Regions from separate parts of the Homo sapiens genome. Here region 1 is linked to region 2. The links come from fine-mapping of genetic effects on gene expression. A gene starts in region 2. The other region holds a variant in brackets. All regions are shown on one strand. Distances are from middle to middle. Region 1 has its middle 22 kb from the start of FAM178B. Region 2 holds the start of ACTR1B (actin related protein 1B).

The links. PIP is the estimated chance that this variant, and not a neighbour inherited with it, causes the effect. A credible set is the group of variants that fine-mapping cannot tell apart.
Region 1: its variant is the best candidate, but not a certain one, in a credible set for the expression of ACTR1B in subcutaneous fat (FUSION, PIP 0.79).

What each region holds. Positions count from the first base shown.
Region 1 is chr2:97,005,940-97,010,329 of GRCh38, forward strand. It overlaps the pseudogene LOC100421288. Among named protein-coding and RNA genes, the nearest start is that of FAM178B, 22 kb to the left of the region's middle. The variant CGTTT/C (reference allele first, on the strand shown) is at 1,694.
Region 2 is chr2:97,661,523-97,665,912 of GRCh38, forward strand. ACTR1B (actin related protein 1B) reads right to left here and starts at 2,522. Exons shown (of 11, transcript NM_005735.4): 1 at 2,321-2,522; 2 at 360-424. The coding sequence starts at 2,368. It overlaps LOC124900516 (U4 spliceosomal RNA), which reads right to left and starts at 3,209; the gene lies at 3,069-3,209. It also overlaps a transcript of C2orf92 not described here and the pseudogene RNU4-8P. RefSeq lists enhancers at 984-1,625, 1,591-1,660, 2,701-3,040 and silencers at 2,021-2,080, 2,161-2,620.

The DNA of each region.
Region 1 (4,390 bases), 660 kb before region 2:
AATAAAATACCTTTTTTTGTTTGTTAGTTGGTGTTGAGAAAAGCTCTAGCTCTGTTGCCCAGAATGGAATGCAGTGGAACAATCATGGTTCACTGCAGCATCAAACTCCTGGGCTCAAGTGATCCTCCCGCCTCAGCCTCCTAAGTAGCTGGAACCAAAGTGTGTGCCACCATGCCTGGCTAATTTTTTAAAAAAATATTTTTATAGAAATGGAGGGTCTCAGTGTTGTCCAGGCTCATCTTGAACTCCTGGATTCAAGCCTTCCTCCTACCTCAGCCTCCCAAAGTGCTGGGATTAAAGGCATGAGGCACTATGTCTGGCCTTGAAAGGAATTTTTATTCAGTCTTTTCCAGATGTTTTTGCTTTTTTCTGGTGCTAGTCCTAAGAAAATTAAGAAGTCCTAAGAAAACTCTTCCCAACATGTAAAACATGCATTCGTTGGTTATTATGGCAATATTCCCTGCATGAGTAATTTTGGTGGTTAGCTTCTGTCTCATCATTTCTAGAAAAAATTTTATTTCTGTCATAACCCCTAATGCTTAGTAAAAAGGCTCTTTCTTTGTATGTTGGTCTTCTTCTTGCAAATTAGACACCCAGTATCAGCTAGTATTTCATTGTTGAGGACCAGCCCTGTACTGTAGAACTCTGGTTTCAGGGCCGCTACTTGCCATGGTAGCTCATGGCTGTGCTCTTTCTTTCTTCCTTGTTCCACTTCACAACATCTCACACAGGACAAAAACAGAGCAGATATGTTTAGATCCTCTGATGTTAATTGAGGCCACTTTGCTTTTTGAGAAATACAAAATTTGGCCCCAAAACATCCATCCAGATTGTATACAGAGTCTATAGTGACCTCTCCAATATGACCTCCTGCTTTAACAGAATCAGTTCAGGTTCTGGATATTTTTACCAAACTCAAGTTAGCTGCAACTGCTCGAGTTTTCATCAATTCAGATACAAAACCATTTACTTTCTTTGATTTAAACAATAAGAATCACAAAACTAGATCTTACATACAAAGTACACCTCACTAAATTGGGGGATTGGTAAATAAATTAAATTAAAAGTGGTTATTATCTATTGCCATTTATATATTTCCTTGTAATCATTTCCAATCTTGGTACCCATCCCTCATCAGATGGTGCCTGGCGCTCCTCTGTGCAAATGTCCTCTCTTCTCTTTCCACAAAGGCAAAATGCTGTTTTCTATATTTAGGAATACTATCAACTTGTTGTTACTGTTGCCATTACTTCATAGTCACCTACTCATATGTACAGTTTCTAAACTAAAATATGGCAAGAAACTTGTCAATGAAGACAATTCCATGTAAAATTTTAGGCGTGTTTCTTTTTCTGCAGAGTAATTGACTGATTCTCAAATTTTACGGGGCTAGTTTAGGCACAGCTCTTCCCTCTGAGATCTTCATTTTCTGAGAAACTAACTCTGAATCTGTGTCCTGATGAGGATCTGCCGTCACACATACCACAAAGTGCCACCCGTGTCAATCATGAAAGTCCGCACTCAAACTGACACCCAAAATTGATATCACAGCAGAGAAACAAGGACATAGAGCACAACTGAGAGGAAGAGCTGTCTCAGCCATGCAGCCAAATGCTTAGGACCAAATAAGGAATCCACACCTCACACGCTCTGGGTTGGAGAAGATGGGACCGCATTAGACAAGTTGGTTTTT[CGTTT/C]GTTTGTTTGTTTGTTTGTTTGTTTGTGAGATGGACTCTTGCCCTGTTCCCCAGGCTGGAGTGCCCTGGCACCATCTCGGCTCACTGCAACCTCCGCCACCTCTGTTCAAGCAATTCTCCTGCCTTAGCCTCCCAATTGGCTGAGATTACAGGCATCCACCAACACGCCCGGCTAATTTTTTATTTTTATTTCTAGTAGAGACGGGGTTTCACCAGTTGGCCAGGCTGGTCTTGAACTGATGACCTCAGGTGATCCGCCGCTCTCAGCCTTTCAATGTGCTGGGATTACAGGCGTGAGCCACCGCACCTGGCCTAGATAAGTACTTTTGAGGGATAAGATGGAAATATCTGAAATGTTTGGCTAGAGATGTTCTTTATATTGTTTTTCCTTCCATCTCTCTGCCTGTTACTTGTATCCTAGACTAACAACCAAGGCTCCTTTCGATGGAAATTATTCTACTCTCTTAGCTGTTGCCTCTTTCTGCCTATAGAACATCTTGCACACCACTACCTGACCAGATTTTATAACTCAGCATTCAAGTGAAGCTCCTATCATAGTCCAAACTCTTCCTTATGGTATCCTTGCTTTTCAGTACTAATCTGAGATACTCCTGCTGCTTTTCTTCAGAACAAATAGCTCTTTCAATAAAGCTAATGTCAGGAAACTTGCCATGCAAATAAACACAACATATAAATTGAAACATAATCTATTTTATTTTTTACAATAACAAACCTCTTAAGTGCATTTATGTCCTTAATGAAAGAGTTGTTTGCTTTTCCAAGTTCTGCATTTTCTTTTCTAAATTGTTCCCATTTTCCTTATACTTTCTACAATATTCTCATGATGCTTCATTGTTTCTTTTCGGGCCAGCCTCTCTCTCTTCTCCACTGCCTTTTGAAAAGCTGAGCAGTTGGACCTTGGAAAGATGCCCTACCAGCTCCAGGCACAATGCTGATAGAGGATGCCAATCTGGGATGATGGCACATTTTCTGTGACAGCTAGTACGACAACCTGGTTACTGGCTGCTAGCATTCTCTGCCCATCAGTGGTCTCTAGATAGTGCACTGTGTACGTCACCAGCAATAGAGTGGCTCCTCTAGTCCATTATCTTTTCTGCAGTCCCTGTGCACCAAGAGTATCATTACTAGTTAGTTCTAAAGCTCCTCACTGAGTAATGGCAGTGTGCTGCCCACTGATAGTTTGGTAAGCTGGAGCTTGTACCATCACTGCAACAACAGCAGATGACACTGCTTTCTCATCTTCATACTTTTCTCTAATTCCTGGCTTTCCAGGTGCATGGAAGGATACACTACTCAATATTATCCTGTTGGAAATGCTCTTGGACAGTATCTGTCTTACCTGTTAAGAATCAGATATCCATGAGCTGTATTCTGAGAATCTTTACCCTTTATACTTATGAAGATGTGAGTTGCAGAAAAACACTTCTTAAATCTTTGGTAGAATTCTTCTGGACCACTCTCGATATAAGAAGCTTTCCTGAATGACTCCAGCTCTGTGGAAACCATGTCGATCCTCCATGCACGATGCTACAAAAAAAATCACAGAAATTTGTCTTGATCATCCTTTTTGATTCGTACAGGCTTCTTCCTTCCTATTAAAGTGATTGTTTTATTAATAGGATTAGGGTAATGTAGTGTTCTCTGTGCATGTTTCCCGAATATGTTTGGAAATAAACTACAGGTGAGGGAAGAGACTCACAAGGGAATTCCAGGTGGCTGGGATTAAAGAATGGGTGAGTGAATAAATGATCTGTTTCCAAGATTGGATTAAAAGAAAAAATTGCCACTGATCTCTTTTCCACATTGTGATTATATTGCCCTCTTCTCTCAGTTGTCTCTAGATTTTCTGCCTATCTCCCAGATTATTCTGCCTATCTCCCAGAAAATTCAGAAAGAAAGATATTTTCTTTCTGAAATTTTCAAGTAATAAAATAATGAATTTAAGCTCCCCCTATAAAATAAGGTCATGTGTGTTCCTAAAAGTTAGAAAGGTTAGAAGTATAAAATTCCAGTATGTATTAGGTGACTGTCCTCAGCCATTTTAAGGAAACCTCAGAAGAATAACAAGGATAGAAAATTAAATCCTAAAATACTATAAAAATGTGAGATAAATGTAAAAACATTCTGTTAATTCAAATTTTTAAAAATGCCATTTATTTGGACTATGCCCCAACAGACCAAATCAAAATGCAGCTATTCTTGCTAAAGTTCTGCATCCCTGAGTTTTTAATTACATTGTTTACCTGACTTAGTAAAAAATCAGGACGGATGCATAATAGCCAAATGCTAAAACAGGCCAGCTTTAGCCAGCATGATAAGGAAGTCCTCCATTCTTTCATCTATGCAAGAAGAGTAACCTGATGTTAACCATTTCGTTTGTTGTATTATTTTGTTTCTTTGTTCCTGTTCAAGAAACCTTACAAAAACTGGCTCTTGTCCCATATCCAGCACAGAAACTCTCTATTTTTGGATGAGATATTTCCTGATTTTTGAATCACAGTTAGAAGCCAATTTGATCATTTAGCTAAATTTGCAAAAATTTTGTCTTTTCATATCTTCAAATATACAATGAGAAAACCCAAAGAGATATGAGAAAATCTGGCCAAAATCACACACACACACACACACACACACACACACACACACACATCAGGAGTTAAACTGAGAACAGA
Region 2 (4,390 bases):
GAAAGGGTGGCTGTGCATCTAATTCCTCACTCTTCCTGCTCCGAGTTTAGGGCTCCCCTCGGAGATGTCTCCCTTTATTCTTGCTGCTGCTACCACACCCCATCCCCAGGGAAATGCTGGTTGCTTTTCCTCCTTGCTGGCTCAACAAGACCAAAACGAGAGACTCCCAAGACAAAGGGGAACCCTAGAACGCTTGTCTTGTTCTTTCAGTGCTCTCTCAAGAGTGTCAACCTCACAAATTTGGTGTTTTCCATACAGGTCAGGGCACAAATTGTCTTCAAAGAGCCCTGTGACAGAAGGCCAATGTTCTTACAGAAGGTAAACAAAAGGACTAAGGCTGCTGCCTGAGCCACACTTACTAGTTTGGGAAACAGTATTTGGGAATCTGGTCTCCTGCAAAGCCAGCTTTAATCACCCCCGAACCCTGCAAGGAAAAACAAAGTTGAGCTGCCCACATGCACCACCAGATGAAGCCAGTCCCCCGCAATGGAGAGAGCTGGCTGCCCCGTCAAGGCAGGCCAAGGAGGAAGCCAGGGACCCTGCCAGGATCATTTACAAGTACACCTATGGTTCAAGATTGGGGGCAATTTTGTATCCCCCTGCTCTGGCAACATTTGGCAATGTCTGGCAGCTGGGGAGAGGGGACATGCAGTGGGGGATGCTATTGGCATCTAGTGGGCAGAGGCCAAGGATGCTGCTCAACATCCTACGATGCACAGGCGAGCCTGCACTACCAACAAGGAGCTAGCCCAGAATGTCAATAATATAGAGATAGAGAAACCACGAAGGGCACCTTCCTCTGCACAACTAATGGTTGGCTCCAGCAGGATTCCATAGCACATGCTACTCCCAAAAGCTAGAAGAAACCCCTCTGTGTGGGTCTTTTTTTTTTTTTTTCAACAGCTTCCTTCTCCCCCAAGAACCCAGAAGGCATGGAACATGGACGACCTACAGGGCCTGCTGGAGAAGACCAATGGGTGCATGGGATGACCGGCAGCTTCCCTCAAGTGGCTTCCCAGAGACTACTAGGAGAACTTGGTCCTATCGCTGCCCCCACCTGGAAGCTGGACTTAAGGATCCCCCAAAGAACGGGGCAATTAGAAACCTCCCACCCAGCGAAGGGATAAGCTTCTCAACTCAGTCCCACCACTCTTCATCGCAACCCTCTGAGTCTGCAGCAGAAACAAACATCTCCAAGTTACAGAGGAGGGGATGGAATCCCCAAGGGGCCGAGCGGTAGCCCTTTTAACTTATAAGCCTGTTGATTAGCCTATACGAGTTATTTGCACGTCAAGAAAGGAAGTAGCCTGCTCCTTCCTGCAGCGTCCTGCTGGTGTGACAGCACGTCCCCAAGCTCAGTGCTAACCTCCTTATTAAACATCCCCTGCTGTGACTCAGGGAACCCACATGGGTACTCTAAAACAGTCATTCAGGGACCCCACGGGGTCATGTGGGAGGGAGACAGATCCCAGAAAGAGCACAAGTGAGTCATTACCAAAAACTCCAAGGCCCGCACACCGGACGCACATACCCAGCTAGGGGCAGACTCAAAGATCCCAGCCCTTATCTTCTCCCCATATCAGAGCTCGGAAGCCAGAAATCTTCCTAAGGCAGGTGAAAGCAAGCCGAGCCCCACTGCTGAAGGACAAAGCCACAGGAAGCCTGATGACATCTTTCCTCTGAGGCTTCCAAACGATCACCCCAAATTGCTTGCTGATACTGGGAAGAGTGGCCATGAACTCTCCATTGCTCTGCTGGCTGTGGAATGTTTGCTCAGCACAGGAAGCATTTAAGGAGAAAGTCAAAGTAGCCAAAAGGCAAACCAGATGGTGGTGGACATGTGGGTGACAGAGCATCCTGCATTTGTTGCCTCGGGGTGCAGCCCCAAAGATAAAGCCAGCAGTGTGCAAATGACAAATGCTACCCCACCTCCGCCAGGCAGCCAGAGCCAGGGCCGAAGGACGCGGAAAGGAACTGGTGTGGAAACCTGCCCAGGAACCGCACTCTCAACTGAGAAGAGTCCGGGGCGCGTCCCCGCCCGGCCGCCCGGCTGTCACTCAAGCTCTCCTGAACTTCCCCGCCCGACTCGGGGAGGGGTCGGGGAAGAGGCTCTGCGACGCGGGCGAGGGGGCTCGCCCCATGGCCGGCCTTACAAGGCCAAGAGGGCGCGCGCCCCCGGGGCGAAGCCAGCGGCCCGGCGGGGGCGACGGCCACGCAGTGAGCGGAGGACGCGCCGAGGCGGGCGGGGGTCTCTCCCTGCGCCGCCGCGTGCGCCCCCGGGGGCGGGGCGCCCGCCCTCCCCCTGGCTGCCGGGCCTCACGTTGTCGATGACCACAGGCTGGTTGGCGATGATGTCGTAGGACTCCATGGCCGGGCCGCGCCGGCCCTGCCCAGCAGGCGGGCTGCAGGAGGCACCGGATGGGCGGGCGGGCGGGAGGACCGGGACGGCGGCGGCTCCCGACGCGGCGCCGCTGCCCTCCCTCCCCGAGCCTGCAGCCTACGCGAGCCCCGCGGGGCTTTCTGGAGGGCGGGCCCGGCGGCCAATCATCGCTCCCACCTGGCCCGATTGACAGCAGGTGCCCGGGGCTGGCTGCGCGAAGGGGGCGGGGCCTCCGGAGGCTGGCCAGCCAATTGAGGTCGTCCGGAAAAAAGTGGTCGCGGCGTTGCCAAGGTAGGCTGCGCAGTGTCTGGGATGATGTCATGGCTCCGTCTTAAAGGGGACGCGGGCGGCAGAAAGTGGAGCTGGGCTGGTGTGCGCGCGGCCGGAGTCTGTGGAGCTGGAAATTCACCGGTCCAGGAAGACGTCTTTCCCGCGTCCCAGCACCGGTCCAGAAAGACGTCTTTCCCGCGTCCCAGCACCTCGGGCCACGCTCCTTCGTGAGAGCGCCCTCTCCAAGGAGGCCGGCCCTGGATATTTCACCCAAAATATTTATTTTTTCTTTTTTTCTAGGTAAGGTGTCTTGCTCTGTCGCTCAGGCTGGAAATCTTGGGCTCAAGCGATCCTCCCGCGCCAGCCAGTAGGGGGGACTACAGGCGCGCACCATATTTATTTATTTTTACTGAAATAGTCTCCGTAGAGACTGTTAAAAATTGCCGATGTCGACTATATTGCAAGTCGTCACGGTGGGGTATTGCGAAAAGTTTTCAATTAGCAATAATCGCGCTTCGGATAAACCTCATTGGCCACCATACGGCCACCGCGCAACGCTAGCTAATTAAAAAAAATTTTTTTTGTAGAGAAGGGATCTCGCTATGTTCCCCGGGCTAGCCTCGAACTCCTGAGCTTAAGCGATCCTCCCGCTTAGTCTTTCCAAAGCGTTGGGATTACAGGCGTCAGCTATTGCGCACGGCCCCATAATATTTCCTCGTTGAGCACTGAAGAAAAGATCCTTTTCCTTATAAAAATTACAGTTTCGTGGTATTTTGGTCCTGGCATTTATTGAGCACCTGCTCTGTGCCTGCGGAGCACTTCTGCCCACTTTACATAAGTTATATTAAATCCTTGCAACAATATCAGGTAGTTGTATTATTACTCCCATTTTTCAGTCAGGGTCTTCACACTTTGGTAACCTGCCCAAGATTATTGGGTGTGGAATTGGCATGCAGGTAGCCCCCTGCGGCACTGGAGTCAGCTGCTTCAAGAGTGCAGGATAGTTGAGTTCTACATTTGTTTACCAAACGGATCCATAGTTATTTCCCTGTATATATACCTCTCCCAATGGGTTGTGAGCATAAAATTTGTAAAATTGAAGCGGGTGTGCAGAAATCACAAGTGTACATGTACATTTCAATGAATGATTAAAATGTGGACACACTTGCATAACCACCGAGTTCAAGAAACAATATTGTTGCTGGAAAAGGGGTCCCGATCCAGACCCCAAGGGAGGGTTATTGGATCTTGCCCAGAAGAAATTCAAGGCAAGTTGCAGAGTGCAGTGAGAAGCGATTGTTTATTGAAAGCTACTCAGTTACAGAGTAGGCCATCCTCAGAAAGCAAGAGGGGGAACACACCCTCTTTATATTAAACTCTTCTTATAGAGGGGTCTTATCTATGTAAAAACTAAGCTATGTCTACATGAGGGTGGGCTGACAGCATAACAAAATTTAGTGCTTTTTGATTTAAAGAAAGTTATCCTTGGCATTTTAATGCATAAATACATCAAAGCATGACTCTCTCTCTCTCTCTCTCTCTCTCTCTCTCTCTCTCTCTCTCTCTATATATATATATATATATATATATATATATATATATTTTGTTTTGTTTTGTTTTTTTGAGACAGGGTCTCACCTTGTTGCCCAAGCTGGAGTGCAGTTGCCTGATATCAGCTCACTGCAACCTCCACCTCCCAGGCTCAAGCTATCCTCCTGCCTCAGCCTTCCAAGTAGCTGG